2 separate regions of the Homo sapiens genome follow, and region 1 is linked to region 2. Evidence: fine-mapped QTL for protein levels in blood plasma. A gene starts in region 2. The other region holds a variant in brackets. All regions are shown on one strand. Distances are between the middles of the regions. Region 1 overlaps GLO1 (glyoxalase I). Region 2 holds the start of GLO1 (glyoxalase I).

Evidence for each region. PIP is the posterior inclusion probability: the model's chance that the variant is causal. Protein levels are from antibody-based Olink assays in UK Biobank. Linkage for the fine-mapping came from a reference panel and not from the study's own genotypes, which makes the PIPs less certain.
Region 1: its variant is fine-mapped to the plasma level of the GLO1 protein (UK Biobank, PIP 0.97). The variant lies in the coding sequence of GLO1. If it changes the protein, the assay may bind it differently, which can mimic a change of level.

What each region holds. Positions count from the first base shown.
Region 1 is chr6:38,676,776-38,688,731 of GRCh38, forward strand. It overlaps GLO1 (glyoxalase I), which reads right to left. Exons shown (of 6, transcript NM_006708.3): 2 at 10,117-10,199; 3 at 7,599-7,739; 4 at 6,033-6,100; 5 at 5,237-5,326; 6 at 1-608. The coding sequence ends at 520. Among named protein-coding and RNA genes, the nearest start is that of GLO1, 20 kb to the right of the region's middle. RefSeq lists a silencer at 4,453-4,665. The variant T/G (reference allele first, on the strand shown) is at 6,077.
Region 2 is chr6:38,697,127-38,709,082 of GRCh38, forward strand. GLO1 (glyoxalase I) reads right to left here and starts at 6,019. Exons shown (of 6, transcript NM_006708.3): 1 at 5,845-6,019. The coding sequence starts at 5,928. RefSeq lists enhancers at 5,161-5,753, 5,786-5,835, 5,856-5,955, 6,136-6,295.

The sequences.
Region 1 (11,956 bases), 20 kb before region 2:
TCTATCAGTATCCTTGTCAGCATGATTTGAATTGCTCTCAAGAGTACCTACTCTTTTGTAAAATAAACACTTTGTACTTTACTGAAAGAACACTAGTGTTCTTTCCTTTCCGTTGTGAAAAAAGTTGTTTCTGAGGAATTGAAACCCCAGAAGATAACTACAACAAAAACATGTTAATTTTTTTTTAAAAATGATGATTCAAAGGCAGATTTGAAGGGAAGTAATATTTAGGTGGCAGAAGAAGGCAAATGCAGCCTCTGAAGGGAACTGTTCTAATTATTACCTAAAAAATAAAGTTACACAACTATATTCAAGGACATGAGATAAAGCACTGCTTGAAAACCAGAATGACTGAACAGTTAGGTGAAAAGGAACAGCTGAAATAGGAAGGGGAAATGGACTGAAGAATAATTTGAATCGGGACAGTGATCCATCAGTCCTAGATGCTTCTGGTATGTAAATATCTTGAATCACATTGTTTCCTTTCTTCTGAAATCTCAAAGGAGAATTCTCACAGCACTACATTAAGGTTGCCATTTTGTTAGGATTCAAAATTTCAATCCAGTAGCCATCAGGATCTTGAATAAATGCCAGGCCTTTCATTTTACCTGTAAAATGAAAATTTTCATTATTGAAAAGACTAAAAAAGAAAACACCATAAAAATGTTTTTCTTTCTTTGAGACAAGGTCTTGCTCTGAATGTCAGGCTGGAGTGCATGGGATGATCATGGCCCAAGGCAGGCTTGACCTCCTGAGCTCAGCCTGCCAAGTAGCTGGGGCGACAGGCACGCACCACCTTGCCTGGCTAATTTTTTGATTTTGTAGAGGCGGGATCTCAATGTACTGCCCAGGCTGCTATCAAACTCCTGGCCTCAAGCAATCCTCCTGCCTTGCCTCCCAAAGTGGTGGGATTACAAGCACAAACCACTGCACCTGGCCTTAAAAACTTTTATTAATTAAAGATTTACTTTGCATTTTAATGAAGTACATTATTTTGTTTACAGTTTTAAATTTTAAAAATTCTTATTGTCAGAAAAGTATGAAAAGTCATACTTTTCATAATGACTAAAATGTTATCTTGCACACATTGCAAATACCAGCCCTCCTGAAATAAACTGTGGGACTGGCTGCATCTTTTAGGTATCAGGCATTTGCCTCACCTTCATGATACCACACTACCAGTTCAGTAGTTACAGAAATTGTCTTATTTTAAAGAAGAAAAAGAAAATAGGGAGGTGCTGAAGGGAGCTGGTAGCATGGCTTACCCCCACAACCAAAAGACCCAGATGCTTGGGTCATACAAACCCTTTTAAATACTATCCTAGGCAACCCAAGCTCTGCGAGAGTCTTTCTCCCAGGAATTCAAAACTGAGATTGAGAGTCTAGTATGTCAGAGCTGTTTGCTTAAATGGAAAAATATGACCTCAGAAATTTATTTGGGGACCATTATGTTGAATTGGTTTGACTCTTATCTCTGCCTCCTTTCTCCAAGATCAATCCTAGAGGAACATAGATGGAAAATGCAGGAAAAAGAAAGAAAGAGAGAAAGAGAAAGAGAAAGAGAAAGAGAGAAAGAGAGAAGGAAGGAAGGAGGGAGGGAGAGAGAGGAAGGAAGGAAGGAAGGAAAAGAAAAGGAAAAGAAAAGAAAAGAAAAGAAAAGGAAAGAAAGAAAGAAACCCGGCTGGTGACAGCTGGGGAGAATGGGTGAGGATGGGGCCGGGTGACTGTTTTAACTTGGGCTGTGTGGGAGGTGGTAGTTCTGGCCTGGACCAGAAGGCAGTGCATAATGGCTGCGAGAGAACAGAGTTTTGCTCTTGCTCCTCCCTCACTGCTGTGTGCATCGGCACCTGCCCTCTCGCTTGTTCAGATGTCCTTACCAGTAAACAAGGGCAGTGCAGGAGCCTTGTGCTTGTGAGAAACTGAGAAAAACTGGTAGGGCCGAATGATCTCCCCAGCCCTCTCTCCACGCCCAGGGCTAGGGAATAACACTATCGGAAGTGTCTCCTACTAATACTCTTCCCTGAGGGATGAAGTGGGAAGATCCAACCTGAAGAGGTGTTTTGTGGAAGGTGAAATAAATTTAAGTCTCATTTCTAGGTGCCTAGGAATCTCTGGCCTAGGCTTATCCAGCCCATTGTCCTGAGATCATGTGGGTTGTTAAGGACAGGGATCTGGCCATTCTCCTATTCACACTGCTTGATGTGTTAGAATAGCGAACAGTTGCAGGGGAAAAAAGCTCAGAGGCAAAAAATAATAATTTGAGAAACATAACCATAAAACACCCCCAAAGCAATGGACTGTAGATTCAAACAGAAGAAATATTAGAATAATGGACCAAGAGCTATTTTTGTTTTTTTTCTGGAGACAGGGTCTTGCTCTGTCGTTTATACTGAAATGAAGTACAGTGGATCATAGCTCACTGCAGCCTCCAACTCCTGGGCCCAAGCAATCCTCCCACCTCAGCCTCCCGAGTAGCTAGGCATACAGACTACAGGCATGTGCCACCATGCCCAGATAATTTAAAAAAAAACCTTTTTGTAGAAACAAGGTCTTCCTATGTCACCCAGGCTGGAATGCAATGGCACAATCATAGCTCACTGCAGCCTTGAACTGCTGGCCTCAAGTGATCCTCCCGAACCTCCCAATCCTCTGCCTCGGCCTCCCAAAGTGCTGCAATTACAGGCATGAGCCACCATGCCCAGACCCAAGGACTATTTAGACATGTAAAAGTAATGACCGGCCGGGTGTGGTGGTTCACATCTGTAATCCCAATACTTTGGGAGGCTGAGGCAGAAGGATCACTTGAGGCCAGGAGTTTGAGACCAGCCTGAGATACATAGTAAGACCCTGTCTCTACAAAAAATAAAAAATTAGCCATACATGGTGGCATTTGCCTGTAGTCCCAGCTACTCAGGAGGCTGAGGTGGATTATTGTTTGATCCCAGGAGTTTGAGGTTGCAGTGAGCTATGATCACACCACTGCACTCTAGCCTGGGCAACAGAGCAAGACTCTGTCTCAAAAAAAAAAAAAAGTAATAAACAATATGAAATATTACCAATATGAAAAAAAGAACAAGAACATATTAAGCAAACTAAGCGAAAATTAGAGATCAAAATTATAACAGGTGTTTAAGAACAAAATAGATGAATTAAATATCAGAACAGATACATTTGGGAGAAAATTAGCTAATTGGTATTCCAGTTTGAGGAAATCTCCCAGAATGCAGGCAGTGACAAAGAAATAATATAAAAAGCTTCTAGAATAAAACAGAAGAATATACAAAGGAACATGAATTGACAGATTTTTCAACAGCAACATCATATGCAAAAAGAAAATAGAAGAGTATTTTCAAGACTGAAGGAAATTAAACCTAGGCTTTTCCATAAAACTGTCCTTCAGACATAAAGGCATCATCCTCAGTTACACAGAATCTCAAAAGTTTTGCCTTAAAAACCCTTTAAAGGGCTGGGTGCGGTGGCTCATAGCTGTAATCCCAGCACTTTGGGAGGCTGAGGCAGGCGGATCACCTGAGGTTGGGATTTTGAGACCAGCCTGACCAACATGGAGAAACCCCGTCTCTACTAAAAATACAAAATTAGCCAGGCACGGTGGTGCATGCCTGTAATCCCAGCTACTCGGGAGGCTGAGGCAAGAGAATCACTTGAACCCAGGAGGCAGAGGTTGCGGTGAGCCAAGACCGTGCCATTGCACTCCAACCTGGGCAACAAGAGCGAAACTCCGTCTCAAAAAACAAAAACAAAACCCCTTTAAAGACCATTTTGGTTGAGGTATTTAAATAAAAGAACAGAAAAATCCAAAAGATGCTAAAAAGGCTGGGCATAGTGGCTCACGCCTGTAATCCCAGTGCTTTGGGAGGCCAAGGTGAAAGAATCGCTTGAGCTCAGGAGTTTGAGACAAACCTGGGCAACATAGCAGGAACTCATCTCTACAAAAAAATAAAACAATTAGCTGGGTGTGGTGGCATGTGCCTGTGGTCCTAGCTACTTAGGAGGAGGCTGAGGCAGAGGATTGTTTGAGCCCAGGAGTTTCAAGGCTATAGTGAGCTATGACAGTGCCATTGCAGCACCCCAGCCTGGATGAGAGTGAGATCCTGTCTCAAAGGAGACACTACAAGAGATATATGAAGAAAAAGTGATCAAACACCGTGATATATTTATTATTATCTTTAAAAAATAAAATCAATACTATCCCACTCTAGGTAATAGTGACACAATGAGGACAGAGTGAAGCAAATTCCTTTCTTATTGGGGAGAAGATTTGGATATTAAATATATATATATTTTTGTGACGGAGTCTCACTCTGTCGCCCAGGCTGGAGTGCAGTGGTGCGATCTTGGCTCACTGCAACCTCCACCTCCCAGGTTCAAGCAATTCTCCTGCCTCAGCCTCCTGAGTAGGCGGACTATAGGCGCCCACCACCATGCCTGGCTAATTTTTTCTATTTTTGGTAGAGACAGGGTTTCACCATGTTAGCCCAGATGGTCTGGATCTCCTGACCTCGTGATCCGCCCGCCTTGGCCTCCCAAAGTGTTGGGATGACAGGTGTGAGCCACCACGCCCAGCACTGGATATTAAGTATTTTAATTTTTTTAAAAAAGGATTGAAATTAAACAGTGAAATATTTCAAATGTTTAGATTGAGACTCTGAAATATTTAATATTTCAATTTTAATTTGAAATAGTTCAGAAAGAGATCTAAGTAAAATAATAACAATACATGTAAACCCAGCAAAATCCATACGTAGGCTATTTCAAAAAACCTACCTAAAACTTAAGGACATACAAAGGTTATAAAAGATGAAAAAGAAATACCATGTGATTATAAACTAAAGAGAGCTGGTGTCATTATATGAGCATCAGATAAAATGGACTTTAAGGAACTTATTTTTGGGCGGAAAGATATACACTGAAATAGTGAAAGCTGGTGGCCAATGAAAGAAAGTGGTGGGGTCGGGCAGTGGGAGAGGAAGCGTAGGGTTTTGATGGCTGTCCAGGTCCTGTGTCTAGTGCCTTGGAAAGCCACCCTAGTTGCTGTCTTTCAGTTCCCTAAAATACCCAGATATTCTTCCAATCATTTCTCTTTTTTAAAACTCTGGTTGAAGTGGAGACTTCTGTTACTTGTAGCCAAAAGGGTTTTACTACAACAGTGGCCTCTGTAGGTGGTTAGTAAATATCAACTAAAGACAGGCCTGAACACAGTAAGTAGTAGACTCACCATCATCAGGTTTCTTCACAAATTTGACTCCCAGTTCTTCAAACCTTTTACAAGCACTGTATACATCAGGAACAGCAATTCCAATATGACCTTACGTGATACCCCCCGAAAAAAGCAGAGAGAAGGAAGAAATAATTATAACAGGGTGTCCAAGTACCACAAGTAGATTCCAAAACTTGTTTATTTCAAAACATAAGGCACTTGGGAACAGACTTAGGTAGGTTCAAAATCTATAATACATTAAAGAACAAATATAGATCTAATGGGCTGGGTATAAGTAGTTAATTAGTTGCCTTGAATTATAAATTATTTAAAATTAATCAATATCAGCTCATATACAGTCTAATCAGTTAAGAATAATCGACACCAAAAAACAGTAATCATTTACTAATACTTAATAGGTTTGTGGTTGGCATTGACTATAGCAGCCAGCTGAAGCCTGCAATACTGTCATCTTGATTGAGAGACTGGAGATCAAGGCAGAAGTGTATGTGCTAGCAGAAACTGGGATTAGTATTAACTACAGCTTTTTTAAAAAAAAAAGTCTACTGGAAATTAATTCTGAGACTTAAAAGTAAATCATGGTGAGATGGTAAGTGTAATTTTAGATCGAGACTCTGAAATTAAACAACTCCTAAATAAGATTATTTGTGGAAAATAAAAATAATCATATCTCTAATAAATTGATCATACTTAATTAGGACATTAATGTTTTAGGTTTATTAAAATCATAATTATATACATAATACAAAATCACACAAATCTACATATATCACATAAAAACAGGCAAACTTACCGAATCCTCGAGGGTCTGAATTGCCATTGTGGTAACTCTGGGTC[T/G]CATCATCTTCAGTGCCCCAATTGCTACAAAAGGAAGGAAAACATAGCTACAATGTCCTAGGGAATAGATATTCTGAAAAGCAAGTAACATCTTTGAAATCTTACCACGTTTATATGCTACTTTACATAATTGGCCTAACCCCTGCTACAAAAATATTAAGTTTTCAACTATAGAAAGGACAAATGGCCAAAGTATGATTTTAACGAGACTAAAGAGACAGTAAATACAGGTACTGGACAAGAACAATAATAAGAATAATAATAATGCTCATTTATTGTGCTAAGTACTTTATATTTCATTTAAACCCTTAAAACAGCTCCATGGGCTAGGTGTGAACATCTCCATTCTATTGATGAAACTGCCACTTACTTGTTTAGAGTCACAGACTCATATCTAAGCCTGCCTGATTCCAAAGCTTTATTTTGAATCAAGGGACACACGAAATCACACACTCTGAAATCAATCTCTTTTAAAGTATGCAGATAAACAATGTAAAGAAATTGCCTACATTTTTAAGTGCTCAAGTTATAAAAATACCAAATTTGAATGTTAATTATTACAAAATGGTTTGAAGAATTTTTAAAGGAACACATGATATCACATTTCTGGATCCAAAATGTAGCAAAATAATAAAAGAACAAAATTTTGGATGCTGAAAGACTAATTATAGTACCTAAAAATTAGTTAGAGACAAACAGGCAAATATCTTACAATTTCAGGGTCTTATATTCTCTTATCTAAAAGACAAATGGAGGCCGGGCGTGGTGGGTCACGCCTGTAATCCCAGCACTTTGGGCGGCCGAGGCAGACAGATCACGAGGTCAGGAGATCGAGACCATCCTGGCTAACATGGTGAAACCCCGTCTCTACAAAAAATACAAAAAATTAGCTGGGCGTAGTGGCGGGCGCCTGTAGTCCCAGCTACTTGGGAGGCTGAGGCAGGAGAATGGAGTGAATCCGGGAGGCAGAGCTTGCAGTGAGCCGAGATCGCGCCACTGCACTCCAGCCTGGGCAACAGAGCAAGACTCTGTCTCAAAAAATAAATAAATAAATAAATAAAAATAAAAGACAAATGGGCCAGGCGTGGTGGCTCATGCTTATAATCCCAGCAGTCTGGGAGGCCGAGGCGGGCGGATCACTTGAGGCCAGGAGTTTGAGACCAGCCTGGGCAACATAGTGAGACCTTGCCTCTATGCCTCTACCAAAAACAAACAAACAAAAACTAGCTGGGTGTGGTGGCACACATGTGTAGTCCAAGGTGCTCAGGAGGCTGAGGCAGGAAGACTACCTAGAAGTTAGAGGCTTCAGAGAGCCTGTCTCTAAAAAAAACACATCTCATTTGCCCAAGAACAATACAAAGATCAAAAGATGCATGAAAAACACTTCAATATATTATTAAAAATGTGAAGTCATAGGCAGATCTGGTTTGAATTATACTGGTCAGTAAACAAAACAAAAAAGATTTTTAAAAACTACCTTAAAAAATCTATAATATATATAAATATAGAAACTCATACTCACTGTGTCAGCTCAAGTGTAGCTTTTCTGGAGAGCGCCCAGGCTATTTTTTCATCTTTTTCTTTAGGGATGTCATTTTTATCCTCATAAGCCAAGAAGTAGAGTGAAAACTTCATAATGGGAAAATCACATTTTTGGATTAGCCTGCAATGAAAAAACAACAAGCCTGAATCATTAACAACAGGAAAGGCTAATTCATACTATAATCAACATAACTTAATATTCAAGTTTTACTAAAAAGAAGAGCTATATGTAGTAAGCCTATTTTAATGGAATAAGCAGGAGGAAAAATCAGTGAAAAAATATCATGAAAAATGCATCTGTAAATATTTGAAATACAAAAATGAAAACTTCTGTAATTCATCAATTCTGTAAATATAGTAACATTTAGCTGAAATTATGGTACTTGTTAATAAATAGAAACGGCTATCTCCAAAAGAGAACTGTGTTTATTTGTACTGAAAAATATAAAGAACCTTGTTGCTATTTCATATATATACACACATACAAACACATATATAAATATGTCATTCAGTTAAATAAACACATTTATTGAGTTCTTACTATGCCAAAACATCTAGGAAAGGAAATTAAGGATAGGTGGTAAGAAAGAAGGAGGAAGGACAGACTAGTATCACAGAAGACGTGAATGTCAACAGTAAGGTGGCTAACAGTATCAGATACTGTAGAAAGGTCAAACAGTATTAAGACTAAGAAAAGGTCATGAGATATGGAAAGGTCCCATGAGAGCAATGTCAGCAGAGTGGGGAAGCATCAGCTGGATTACACTGTACTGGGGAGAGAGAATGGCAGGTGAGCAGGTAAAACAGTAGCAAGCATGGCAGTGACAATGGGGAGGTAGGCGAAGGAGCAGAGGGCAAGAAATATTCTGGAACAAAGAAGACTTACGCTTCTCTGAGGGGAAAGAGACAGTAGAAGAGACTGATGGGAGAGAGAGTGAATGAATTATGAATCCTGAGGTTTTAAGAAAGATAACTGAAGTCCTGAACCTTAAATGACTTTAAATGGTATAGGATTATTTGGCAAGGAGTAAGGTGGCATGAGAATGCATATATGATTTTCTTTAGATTATTCAAAGATGACTTTGTTCATAATCAATAAGAGCAAATGGCTGTTATTGCCATATAGCAAATGGAAAGTTTCTAGAGTTCTGCTTCCAATCTTTTATTTCATTATCACTGCTATATAATAGACCTTGGCCCACTTAGATCCTTGCATTGACTTATCACAAATAAGATTTACTCTAACATGTTTATAATAAAGTATCAAACACCTCAAATACTCCAATCATGAAAAACAATCTCTGCACCTACTAAAGCAGACTACACAACCCTCATGGACCAATCAGTTGGGACTGAAGGAAATGAAACTGTTGCAACTTGCTTTTCTCAGCTGTTCAAATCTTCCAGCTTACTGTCAACTTGTACCCTATTTGGGGGCTCTGCACAGGAAGTCTACATTAGAGCCCATCAGACAATGGATACAGGTTCCAGCCCTGCCATATGCCAACTGTGGGATTTGGAGCTAGTAACTTCATCTCATTAAGCTTTGGTTTCTCCGTCTGTGAAATGGGGATAAAAGCTACCTCCTAAGACTGGTGTGAAGACTGAACAAAATAACATTTGAAGTGCCTGGCAAAAGTGTTCAATAAATCTGTTTTCATTTTGTCCTTTAAATATGTCATAAATATATTCATAATACCTTTTTCTAGAAAAAAATCACAAGAAACTGGACAGCAGTTATCTCTGGGGAGAAGAACTTGGGGAGGGAAGCTATTACTTTTCATTTTGTATTTTTCTGAACTGGTCAAATTTTCTAAATATAGACATATATTACTTAAATTTTTCTCTCAATGTGAATGGAAGTTATCTAGGCACTAAATTTAAAGATTATTTTATTATTCATGTATCTATATGCTCAAAAGCAAAATGCTCACATAACTTAGGGAAACAAATCAACAATATGACAAAATTATTTCTCAATATACCTCAGTAAAGCTGGAGAAAAAAAGAAAAATAAACATGCTTTAGAAAAATAAGTATGCTTTAGGATTGCAAGATCAGTGGATATGACCTGTTGAGCAAAAGAAAACACAGCCTAGAAAAATAGAACAGATGGTCAGTTTTAAGTAAACCCATTGGTTTTCTGAGTAGTAAGTTCTTATTATCTATAACTTTTCTGAAGTAAACAAGAGGCTAAAAGTGGCCAGAACATCAAAAGGGGTCTGAACACATTAAGGATTTAGCTGGGAGCGCTCAGAGAAGGCAGACTGGAGAAAATGCAACTATTTGTGTCTTGTTTTGCCCTTTCAGGCTGGCTGGGATAGAGAAGAAAAAGAACTTACGAGAGAAGCCCTGTCCAGCCAGGCCTAATCACAGACTCCTGGCCAAAAGAACTTCTGTTACTTCTGAAACAAACTTTAAGATGGGTCTGAAAACACTCTCTAGATTTGCAAAGCTATATATTTAAACATTAAGGTGCCAATAAGTACTTGACTTACGTCATTCCAAGAACTCTAGTATAAAAATCCAGTGACTTCTTAGGATCCTTCACTCGTAGCATGGTCTGCTGCAATAGAAAATCCTATGGAAAAATATTTATATTAAACATCTTTCACTTTTACCATTTATTACCAACATTAATTGTGCTTTCTGTAACAAGATACAAACACAATTGTTAACCTACCACCTACAACTTGCAAGGGCTCTCTGCTCAGTGGTATCTTCTGGTTGCAGGCCCCTGTGTGATGCAAGTCCAAAGTGTCAGAAAGTTTCCACTGCAGGAATGACCTTCAACCAATGGTCGATAAAAAACCTGGCATCCCTGTCCCTTGGTGGGACAATTCAGAGGCAGGTACCACAAAGTCCCTCAAAGAATCCCCAGCAGGATTGAACCTCAGTTGCCCACAGTGGTAATCCACTCGTATACACCTATGATCACCCTCTCTCCCTAACTCTGCAGAGCTCTCTGTGACCACTTCTCAAAAACTTAAAACCACACCATTCTCTCTAGTCTGCTTTGGGGCTACCCAAACTAAGACACTGATTTTACACATAAAGAGGTTGATCACTACAATATTTGTTGAATGAAGGCATAAATGCCCTTCTAGAACCATTTACTGGTGACCACGCAAATTAGCAAAGAGTTACTCACAAGATCCTAGACTCCTAAATAACTAAAAGGGTAAAAAGTTACTGTTGCTAACACCTTTGGGAAATTCAACTTACTTATCAGGAAACAGAAGGCTTGACTGAGAAAAGGGTAGAAGGTATGTAAATTCATGGAGTTAAGATTATTAATAGCATTAATAATTCTACTTAGGACTTAACTAGGTGTAATAACTCTATATGGTATTACTGTCGATATTCATACCCCATGTTGTAGATGAGAAGCTGACACTGAGTAATTAACTGTTTAAGGCCTCTAAGTTTTGGTCTCCCTTTACCATTGGTATGTACCTTCCAGACCATAAGTCTGTGAACCTCACTGGTGCTTCCTAACAGATTTTTTTTTTTTTTCTGTTAAACCCATGGCTTGACAAAACAGGCCTGAAAATTCTGACCACTTACTTTGGAGCCACATGCCATCTTTCTCCTATATAACTCACATCATATAAAATACAAATATAGTTCATTCAGCCTCATTAGGAAATTATATTTTTCTCTTTTGCTAAATTTTAAGTAAATGAAACATACTCTTTTAGGCATTAAAATTCTCATTTAAAACAAAACTAGCCTAAAAACTACTTTATCTTATTAAAACTGATCTTAATAAATATAATAATTAAATTCTTTATTCGCAGCTTATAATCACATGCCAGGCAGGTTACATGTTTCTAGAACATTTGGGTTGCTTTTCTCAGTCAGATGCTACAGTCCTAAAGGTCTCGATTTTATCAAGCAGCTGAGAAAGAGAAAAGTAGCTCTGCACATCCAAGTGCTGGCCTGGTACTCACAGCTGGGCCTTGGTTTTCTCCTGTTGAACATATATAAAGTCACTCTGTGGCTGCCATGATGTGATACCAAAATAAAAAAAAAAAATTTAAAGCAGCAAGACCATGTCCACTTCATATTCCGGTCTAAGTATACATTAAAACAAGGCACTATGAACACTACCAAAATAACAAACATCCTTCTTTCCCAGCTAATATGAGTGGTAGCTGCTTCTCTATTGATTACAATGTTTGCTTGAGGAAGCCACCTGCAGGACAAAGTCTTATGTATGATCTGTCAGGCCCGACCACACACAATCACACAGACTTTAGCTGGCAGGCCTCATGGGGGAGATCTGTCCTCCCAGCACTGGTTCTCAGTCTCAGGAGGGAGCACTGCAGTCCCTGG
Region 2 (11,956 bases):
CTGGTCTCGAACTCCTGACCTCATGATCCACCCACCTTGGTCTCCCAAAGTGCTGGGATTACAGACGTGAGCCACCGGGCCTGGCCCAGAAAGTCTTCTTAAGGCTCAACTAAACATCCAGACTTATAAGACAACCATAGCCATAGGCCATACATGGTGCCAGTTTACTCAAAACGGTATCTGTTAGGAAAACACAGATTGCCAACAAAGAAGTATCAGGTGTTCCTCTTCAGTGGGAGTCCTTACAGGAGTCGACACAGATCAGGTACAGGGAGAAGATTCACACTGGATATGAATGAGAATCACCCTAGGGCAGAAGGCCCCATGTACCACAGGAGCCAGTATCTCTAGTAGCAACTCCATAGGCAGAACTTCTAGAATTTCCACAAGGGACAGTTATAAGAGTCACTACAATCAGGGAAGTCCAAAGCTATGGCTTCCTTTCAAGTATTTACAATTCTCCCTCTCCAGATGCAATTTACCAATTGGGTTATTTTTACCATAAGCAACAAACACAATTTTTCATTGTTTTCTGGGAAACTAGGGAGTTAACGAAAAGTCAAATTTTCATAAAAGGGGAAAGGGTTTGTTAACTCTTTATTACTAGGTGTCACATCTCCCACAAAACAAAAGTGAACAAAGTGGTTTTCACCAGACTTTTAAAAATGAGCTTTTCAACTGCCTTCAGTGTATCTTGAGGAAAGCAAGAAGTCCTCACTACTTCCTGCCTAGACAATTATCTCTTTGCTTTTCATAGGCTTATCTACATGCAATTTGGAGTGATCTTTCCATAAAGAAAACCCTGTCATGTCATTTTTGGCTTAAAAATCAATACTTCAGTGGTTCCTCAACACATTTGAGAGACAGTCCCAAAAGCAACCACATATGTAGCTGCATACTTCTCTAACACCAACGGTTATCACCACTCCCCTAAACCGGTCATCTCAAACATTTTCTATTTCATACCCTTATCACTTAAATAGCAACCATTACAGGGTGAGAAAAACAAATGAATATAATGGGAATTCTCATCTTTTCTTTGAGTACCCTAATGATTGTTTTGGTCACCCTTCCCTCAAGTCCCACTGCTTATAACTTCATTCACTGTGTTACCCGTAGGTCCCTGCCTCAGTTCTCTGATGTCATTATGCCTTTATATATATTATGATTCTCTATGCCTTGAATAGTCAGCCATTTATCTGGCCATTGTCCTTCTTCCTTCCTCCTTTCCATTCCCTATTCTCCTTTCTACTGCATTCAATTCCACCAATCTACCTGATTGGAGAGGGACCCCATCATATATATATATATTCATATATTTATAGATATATTTATATATTAATATATATTAATTTTTTATATTTTTATATATTCATATATTTATATATGGAACGATGTGAAAATGGACATTGGCAGTGGTGGTAGAAATAATGGCAACACTGAGGACATTGTCTACTGTATTAGTGGAGACAGATACAGATAGTAAAAAAGAAAAGATCTCCAGATCACTACTTGGAAGGAGAACCTGACCTTTTTTTTTTTTTTTTTTTTGAGACGGAGTCTCTCTCTGTTGCCAGGAGAATCTGACCTTTTAAAGAAAGTTAGCCCAGAGAGATTGCCCAAAATGTGACATAGCCATACATTCTCTGGACTTCCTTTATAATGAAGATGCAAATGATCAAAAAACAAGTCGACTTTGTGCCATTGCTGCTGTCTTCTTTACAAACGAGACCCTCATATCACTTATCTCACCTTCTGGAAGAGCTTTTTAAGTGGCCTAATCACCTCCAGACTTGGATCCCTCCAATCTACTTTATAGAATACTTCAAAACCCTGACTCATTCCCCACTATGTATATAAAATCTAACTTCCTTAGATGTGACACTCAAAGCTGTCTCCACAATCTGGCCCCAACCTACCATGTTAGCCTCTTCCACCACTGCTTAGATAACCTGAACTGCAACCAATAACATTTAACTAACTCTCCAGTACCTGCCCTGCATTGCAATTCTACCATCCTAAAACTGTTGTGGGAAGTCAGGGACCCCGAATGGAGGGACCAGCTGGAGCTGTGGCAGAGGAACATAAATTGTGAAGATTTCATTTTAATATGGACATTTATCAGTTCCCAAATAATACTTTTATAATTTCTTATGCCTGTCTTTAATCTCTTAATCCTGTTATCTTCGTAAGCTGAGGATGTACATCACCTCAGGACCACTGAGATAATTGTGTTAACTGTACAAATTGATTGTAAAACTGTGTTTGAACAATATGAAATCGGCGCACCTTGAAAAACAACAGAAAAACAGCGATTTTAGGGAACAAGGGAAGACAACCATAAGGTCTGACTGCCTGAGGGGTCGGACAAAAAGAGCCATATTTTTCTTCTTGCAGAGAGCCTATAAACGGACGTGCAAGTAGGAGAGATATTGCTAAATTATTTTCCTAGCAAGGAATATTAATATTAATACCCTGGGAAAGGAACGCATTCCTGGGGGGAGGTCTATAAACGCCCGCTCTGGGAATGTCTGTCTTATGAGGTTGAGATAAGGACTGAGATACGCCCTCGTCTCCTGCAGTACCCTCAGGCTTACTAGGGTGGGGAAAAAACTTCACCCTAGTAAATTTGTGGTCAGACCGCTTCTCTGCTCTCGAACCCTGTTTTCTGTTGTTTAAGATGTTTATCAAGACAATACGTGCACTGCTGAACATAGACCCTTATCAGTAGTTCTGCTTTTGCCCTTTGCCTTGTGATCTTTGTTGGACCCTTATCAGTAGTTCTGCTTTTGCCCTTTGCCTTGTGATCTTTGTTAGACCCTTATTAGTAGTTCTGCTTTTTGCCCTTTGAAGCATGTGATCTTTGTACCTACTCCCTGTTCTTACACCCCCTCCCCTTTTGAAACCCTTAATAAAAACTTGCTGGTCTAAGACTCAGGTGGGCATCACAGTCCTACTGATATGTGATGTCACCCCCCGGCAGCCCAGCTGTAAAATTCCTCTCTTTGTACTCTTTATTTCTCAGCTGGCCAATACTTATGGAAAATAGAAAGAACCTACGTTGAAATATTGGGGTGGGTTCCCCCCGTATCAAAACACATTTTTGCTAAGATGTTTCCTTCATCAGAATGCCTTCCCATGTACTCTGCTGGAATCCTACCCAATCTATCAAGGCATAGGCCCATCACCACCATCTTTTTGATGTGTGCCCTGATCCCCACAGCTGAAATACAACCTTGAATTGTATCACTCTTCATAGTTTAGAGAACATAATACATGTCATTTTATCCTCATAGCAGCTCTCTGAGATATCTTTATGCTCCTTCTACAAACTGAGCCCAAGTGCCCTGGCAAGGTCACTGCAGCCAACAACAGAAGTGGGGATTCAAATGCAGGTCTTCAGGCTCCAAATACCCTGTGCATACCCCATTCCACTAATGCTACCTTTAAAAACCTCTACCTCCCAGGGTGCTCTCAGGGTGATTTATATTTCAATAGCACACTAACCCCAGGTCCATTGTATATTAGAGTTGATATAAGTTGGTGAAGGGAGGGAACCTCATCTTGTTTATCCCAGTATCCCCAAAGTACTTACCATCTTCTTTACATATAGCATAAATGTATCAAGTGATCAAACTGAATTTAATTCATTGAGGGTTTTTTTTTTTTTTTGGACAAAGTCTCACTCTGTCACCCAAGCTGGAATGCAGTGGCATGATCTCGGCTCCCTGCAACCTCCACCTCATGGGTTCAAGTGATTTTCCTGCCTCAGCCTCCCAAGTAGCTGGGATTACAGGTGCCCGCCACCATGCCCAGCTAATTTTTGTATTTTTAGTAGAGCAGAGTTTTGCCATGTTGGCCAGGCTGGTCTCGAACTGCTAACCTCAGGTGATCTGCCCACCTCGCTCTCCCAAAGTGCTGGGATTACAGGCATGAGCCACTGCACCCAGCCTTCATTGAGGTTTTTTATTTTCCTTTATGGCAAATTCCAAAATTACTGCTGGAGTCAGCACCCCAGAAGCAGAACAGGGTGGAGGTTGGAAGTGTGGGGTCCTCCCTGGGCAAATCACTCAACACCTCTATGTGCCTGAGTGTCCTTATTTGTAAAATGAAGATCATAATTATGCCTTCTTCATAGGGTTGTTGTTAGGATTAAATTAAACAATGTACTTAAAATACCAAGCCAGGGCCTGGCACACTCAATATATACCAGCTATTATTATGTATTCCATTTTATGTCTCCCATGGCCAAAAATTACTGATCTCAAAATTAATTACTCCGAATCATCAAGAGAAATTTAGATACTGTGGAATGTAAATTAAGCTGCAAGGACATTTACTTAGTATATTTTATAAAGATATCCCTGGAATCCTTTTTATTTGAAAACCCCATTACATAAAACCCCTAGTTATCTGGGAAAATACTTTACACTGAGTGACTCAATTTACATTATATGAAAAAACCAGGTATTAATATTAAGGGATATACAAGTGAGATGGGCATGACGGAATTTTTTTACCTTCCCCCTTAATTTTGCAATGACTAACATTTTTCCTAAGCCAAGTACCAGGTGCTAGTCAAAAGTTTTAGCAATGAGATGTGTCTGACTCTTTGCCCTGAAGGTAAAGAACAAGCAGGGACCAGAGTCATGGACCACTTATCTACCCCTTTTAAAGGTCTGCACGAAGCACATATTCAATCTTCAAGGAATTTACAAATGATGTAGTCAAATAAATAAATACAAAGGTGTTTACAGACACTGATGACTTCACTGGAATAAACAGCGGTTACTGTGCCTGAATTTTTTTTTTTTTTTTTTTTTAGACAGAGTCTCACTCTGTCGCCCAGGCTGGAGTGCAGTGGCACGATCTCAGCTCACTGCAAGCTCCGCCTCCCGGGTTCATGCCATTCTCCTGCCTCAGCCTCCCGAGTAGCTGGGACTACAGGCACCCGCCACCACGCCCAGCTCATTTTTTTGTATTTTTAGTAGAGACGGGGTTTCACCGTGTTAGGATGGTCTCTACCTCTTGACCTCGTGATCCGCCCGCCTTGGCCTCCCAAAGTGCTGGGATTACAGGCGTGAGCCACCGCGCCCGCCAACTGTGTCTGATCTTAACAAGGCAACCGAAACACCACACCTGAGTGAGTTACACTGATTCTTACCCAGTAAAGACATGTTCGGTAAGTGAAAGCCTTTGTATGCAACAGGTCATTTCTCTTACTGGGTCATTACTGTAAAACGAGAGGGTAAGAGAAGGAATTTCTAAGATTCCTTTCAGATCCAAACTCTATGATTCTGTAATCTCTCCTGGGCCCCACGAAGATGAGGAAGGCAAGAAGGGCTGTTGTGACCCACAGCAAAGGCCAAGCAAGCAAAAGTGAAATTCTGGGCGCGGTTAAACTTAGAGCGATCAAATTAGTTTGCAGGAGTTAAGACTGCAGTCAGGGTGGTAAGGAAAAACGAGGCTGGGCAGGACTGGTACAGGACAGGCATCTTTGAACCTATTTCTGGGAGTTCTGAAACTACTGTTCTCGTGGGCCTTGGCGACTGATTTGGGAAAGCTGACCCTGGGTTGGCCTGGCTTCCAGCCACCGTCGCAACATAAACAAGCCAATTCAAAACAGGGTCGCAGTCTTTGAAACTAGCTGAGGCAACAGATCCCCTCCACACTTCGCGGGCCCCACGATCGCCCCATCAAACACCATTATCCCTCTTCCCATCACACTCCCGTCCGCCCGAGGCCGGCGGACCTGCAGCGGCGGCGGGATGGGGTTGGATAGAATGCGGCCCGGTCCCGGCCCAGCGGAGCTGGGGGAGCCGTTCCCTTCGGTCCTGTGCCCACCTTGGTACTGGGGTCCGCGTCGGAGCAGCAACTGAGGGCGGCCTCGTCCGTGAGGCCGCCGGACGGGGGCTGCGGTTCTGCCATGGCTGCGCTGCAGTATCACAGACGACGGGACCCAAGGAACGGAGGAGTCACCCACACTACGCCTCGGCCCTGTGCCGCCTTAACTAGGAATGGCGCGATGGCGCCGCGGGCGGGAGACCGCTGACTTCCAGCCAATCGCTGCGCGGAGAGCAAGTTGACTCTCTGCTGATTGGGTCCCAGTGAGTCAGCGCCTCCACCCACAGGACTATGCCTCAGACTACAACTCCCAAGGAGCCTTGCGCATAAAGGAGGCAAACTCATACAAAAAAAAAAAAAAAAATGCAGGCTGGGCAGAGTGGTTTCTCTGTTACTTAATGAGCTAATTTTGTTTGTTTAACTAAAGTTTGGTAACCATTCATACCTCAGGGCTGCAATTTGGTAGAAAATTGGAATCTGATGGAAACTGAAAACTGTAAGTTGTTCTTTTAAAATTGTAAGGATTCAGAGGTTTCTCAGTTTACGCAGCGCAGAGTAATTAAAACAATTGTTGAGTCGAAAACCTATGTTCAAGTCTTGGTTCCGCTATATATTAGCGCTAGAAACTTGCAATAATTACTGACCCTCTCTGAGCTTCCTAACAGGATTTGTTGAGAATTAAATAAGTTTTCTTTTCCTTTTTCTTTTTTCTTTTCTTTCTTTCTTTCTTTTTTTTTTTTTTTTAATTTTTTTAACAGTGTCTCGCTCTGTCGCCCAGGCTGGAGTGCAGTGGTGTGCTCTCAGCTTACTGCAGTCACTGCTGCCTCGACTTCCGGGGCTCTAGCTGTCCTCTGGCCTCAGCCTCCCGATTAGCTGAGACTACAGGCTGCAAAACCAAGACCAGTTAATTTTTGTATTTTTTTGAGATGGGGGTTTCACCATGTTGCCCAGGCTGGTCTCAACTCCTGGGCTGAAGTGACCCTCCCGCCTCAGCCTCCCAAAGTGCTGGGATTACAGGTGTAGCCACTGTGCCCAGCCTAAATGAGATTTAAGTCATGGTTTGCCTACTTAGGTTCCAAATGTCCATAACTTGCAGTACTTTTTACATTAATATATATTTTGTGTTCACTGGAAGGCTTAGTCATCACTGTGTCTTCAATGATTGGCTCATAATAGTAGATGCTCATTAAATACTTCCTGTTGTTAAAAGAATAAATGGGAATGACTGGTGCTCACCTAACCAAAATGAGGTTGGGCAGGGATGTATATGGCACTAGCCACCTGGCCACCACCAAGATGTCCCCGTCTCTCATCTCAGCTTTTTTCTGCATCGCAGCTTCAGTTTGTCAGACACCAGCTCCATAAGACTAGAAATTTGGCAGCTGTTCTCTCACTAGGAGTGGGAGTAAACTCTCCCTCTGGATTTTATCCAGCCAGCCTGGATTTTATCAAATTGGAAAATCCAAGAAGGAGCTGTGATTGGCCTGGCCTAGGACCTGTGCTTACTCCTGTGATTGAAGCACTGCGATTGGCAACCTGGATTAGGACCACCTGATTGGAGTTTGGGGAGGATCTGTTAGTTCCCTAAAAGAAGAGCGATGATGTTCTTATGAGAAGGGAGGATTGCCAGGCAAACTGAACCATGGATGTCCACTGCAAAATGATAGGCAGGATAAGGATTTCAGCAGAAATGTTGTGCATACCTCATACTAACTTACTGAGGATATTTCATCAAAACACAGTCTATTAGAACTGCAGGACTTCTATATGGAACTAGACCTTAAACCTTTTAAACTCGGGAATTGGAGCAATACACAAACTCTCCATATACTGTGTGTTACCACTGAATTATTGAAAAGACCCCCAAATTGTCTTCTTTTGCATTAATTTTCTTTTTTAGATGGAGTCTTCCTCTGTCGCCCAGGCTGGAATGCAGTGGTGTGATCTTGGCTCACTGCAACCTCCACCTCCTGGGTTCAAGCGATTCTCCTGCCTGAGCCTCCCAAGTAGCTGGGATTACAGGCACCTGCCACCATGCTGGCTAATTTTTGTATTTTTAGTAGAGACACGGTTTCACCATGTTGGCCAGGCTGGTCTCAAACTCCTGACCTCAGGTGATCCGCCCACCTCGGCCTCCCAAAGTGCTGGGATTACAGGCATGAGCCACTGTTCCCAGCCCTTTTGCACTAATCTTTCTGGTGAGCTTCTCAGACTATGTGAGATATAAAGCATGTAAATGAATAGGAAGACTCAATATCATAAAATATCAATTCATTTACTAATTAATCTGTTCATGTAATGAAATTCCAATAAAAATCCCAACAGAGTCCTTTCTTTCTTTCTTTCTTTCTTTCTTTCTTTCTTTCTTTCTTTCTTTCTTTCTTTCTTTCTTCTTTCTTTATTTGTTTCTTTCTTTATTTCTTTCTTTCTTTCTTCTTTCTTTCTTTTCTTTCTTCTTTCTTTCTTTCAAGATAGGGTCTCACTCTGTTGCCCAGTGTGGAGTGCAGTGGTGCTGTCTCAGCTCACTGCAGCCTCAACCTCTCAGGCTCCAGCAATCCACCCACCCACCCACCTCAGCCTCACAAATAGCTAAGACTATAGGCATGCACCACCAAAACCAGATAATTTATTTTATTTTAGTTTTTGTAGAGACAGCATCTCACTATGTTGCCCAGGCTGGTCTTGAACTCCTGAGCTCAAGTGATCCTCGCACTTTGGCCTCCCCAAAGTGTGATTACAGGTATGAACCACTGTGCCTGGCCCAGGGGTTTTCAATTAAAATGAACAAGCAGATTCTACATTCTATTTTTAGGGCCCCAAATAGGAAAGATATACTGAATAATAATTAAGTAGGGGAACATTCTCTACCGGATAACAAGACTTTGTACAAGCTACAGTAATTAAGACAGGATGAAAAAAAAAAAAAAGACAGTATGGTAGGGAGGCTGGCATAGATCAACAAATGGAAACTGTAGTAGACCACTCTAAGATAACCCCAATGATCCCCACCTCCGGGTCTTCACAGTCTTGTCTGCTTCCCTAACCTTGAGTATGGGCTGGATTTGGTGGCTCACTTCTGATACAAAGAGCATGATAGACATGATAAAGTGTCACTTCATGTCATTTCTGAGATTAGAGAATGAAATGTTGTGATTCTTATCTTGGGAGCTCTGTCACTTTCTTTGATCTCTCACTTGGAGGGTAAGCAAGTTGTCACGTTGTGAGCAACTCTAAGGAGAGATGCATGTGGCAAGGAACCAATGTCTCTGGTCAACAGCCAGTGAAGGCCAGACACCTGCCATCAGCTACACAGTAAAATTGCAAGTGGGTCCTTTTTCAGTAGAGCTTCAAAATGACTGCTGCTTTGGCCAACCTCTTAGTCACTGTCTTGTGAGAGACCCTGATCCAGAACTACCTAGCTGGACCATTCCCAGATTCTTAAACCACAGAAACTGTGAGATAATAAATGTTTATTGTTTTCAGCTGCTAAGTTTTGGAATAAGTTGTTGTGCATTAATAGGCAACCAATATACACACATACCATGTTTGTGTCTCTGTGTGTGTGTATATATATATAAATTTGGTATGTGTTATCTTACTGCTAGTGGGGAAAAGATTATTTTTTCAATGAATGGGGTAAGGACAATTGATTATGTATGTGATAAAAAAAGATCTCTATTTCATACCATAAAGGAAAACGTAAGTCCAAGAGGATTATAGACATAAATGTGAAAAGGCAAAACTTAAAACCTTGAAGAATAAAATATTAGAAAATGCCTTTGTGAATTCATGGTAGAAATTTCTTAATGAAGGCTGGGCGCGGTGGCTCACTAGCACTTTGGAAGGCTGAGACAGGTGGATTGCCTGAGTTCAGGAGTTTGAGACCAGCCTGGGCAACACAGTGAAACCTCGTCTCTGCTAAAATTCAAAAAATTAGCCAGGCGTGGTGGCGTGTGCTTGTAGTCCCAGCTACTCGGGAGGCTGAGGCAGGAGAATTGTTTGAACCTGGGAGGCAGGGGTTGCAGTGAGCCGAGATCGTGCCACTGCACTCCAGCCTGGGTGACAGAGCAAGACTCCATCTCCAAAAAAAAAGAAAGAAAGAAAGAAAGAAGTTTCTTAATGAGATATAAAAGCACGAAGTATAAAAGAAAGCTAAAACACACCCTAAAAGGTAAAAAGTTAAACCATAGACCAGGAGAAAGTATGGGCAACACACATAGCCAACAAAGGTTCAGTATCCAGAATATGTAAAAACTGTTAGAAATCAATGAGAAAGAGACACATAACTCGATAGAAAAAAATGGCCAAAAAGAAGAATAGGCAATTTACAAAAGAGAGAATAGAAATAGCATATATTCATATGAAAAATTGCTCCAAGTCTGCCCTACGTAGTGAAACCCCACCTCTACTAAAAGTACAAAAATTAGCCAGGTGTGGTGGCACATGCCTGTAATCCCAGCTACTTAGGAGGCTAAGGTAGGAGAATCACTTGAACCTGGGAGGTGGAGGTTGCAGTGAGGTGAGATCACGTTACTTGGGCGACAGAATGAGACCCTGTCTCAAAAAAAGGAAAGAAAGGAAAGGAAGGGAGGAAAGAAAGGAAAGGAAGGGAGGAAAGAAAGGAAAGGAAGGGAGGAAAGAAAGAAAGAGGAAGGAAGGAAGGAGGGAGGGAGGGAAGGAAGGAAGGAAGAAAGAGAGAGAGAAAGAAAGAAAGGAAGAAAGAAAGAAAGAAGGAAAGAAAGAAAGAAAGAAAGAAAGAAAGAAAGAAAGAAAGAAAGAAAGAAAGAGAGAGAGTCCGGGAGTGGGGGCTCACGCCTGTAATCCCAGCAGTTTGGGAGGCTGAGGCAGGAGGATCACGAGGTCGGGAGTTTGAGACCAGCCTGACCAACATGGTGAAACCCCGTCTGTACTAAAAATACAAAAATTAACCAGGTGTGGTGGCATGTGCCTGTAATCCCAACTACTTAGGAGGCTGAGGCAGGAGAATCACTTGAACCCGGGAGGCAGAGGTTGCAGTGAGCTGAGATCACGCCACTGCACTCCAGCCTGGGTGACAGAGTGAGACTCTGTCTCAAAAAAAGTAAAAGAAAAAAAAATTGCTCCAATTTTCTGGTAAATAGGTAAATGCAATTTAATATAGAAATGAGTTTTCTTTTATGCTCTTGAGATTGACAGAAATTAAAAAATTAAAAACCTGTCAATATCAAGTGTTGGTGTGGATGTAGAACAGCTGAAATGCATAAACACTTGCTGGTGGACACACTTTGGAAAGTAATTTGGCAGTATCTAATGAAGTTGAAGAGAGTACATCCTGGGATCCACTGCTAAGTATATATCCTAGAGGGTTATTGTGTCTGCACTCCATGAGACATATATAACAGACATGGTTTGAATGGCAAAAAAAATAAAAGAAGAAAAAAGGATAAAGCCTTAATGTCCAACCGTAGGAAAATAGATAGATTGTGTTATTTTCATTGAGTGGACTACTATACATAAGTAAAAATGAATGAACCAGAGCTACTATTCCAACAGGGATAAATCTCATAATAGAAATGAAAAAAATTACAAGTTGCAGAAGAATACACATAGCACAATACCATTTTTGCAAAGCTTAAAAATATGCAGAATGACATAACGTATTGCCTAGGACTAAATACACATCTAGTAATGGTACAGGAAGTGCCTGGGAATAAACAAATTCAGGAACATGATTTCCTCTAAGGGGCAGCAGAGGAAGACATAGGGGAGGGATATACTGTGGATTTCACTGTGTTGACAATGTTTTATAACTTAAGCTGGATGTTGGGCAAATGGAGAGTTGTATTATTCTTTATGACTCTCTGTATATTTTAAATATTTCACCGCACATTTTTTTTAAAACTAAAAAGTAACAAGCACCACATAGAGAAACAAAAGGGAAGACAGTGATAGTGGGGAAGGAATAGTTTAGAAATAGTCCCTGTTTGAGAAGACACAAATTCCAAAGAGTTTAGAAGTGCTTTGTCAAACTAAAAAACAGAAAGAGGTTCTCTAAAAGAAAAAGGTATTTATTTGAACGTAGGGCATCGCAATGGGAATTTGCGTGCCATAGTAAACTATGTGCATATTCAGG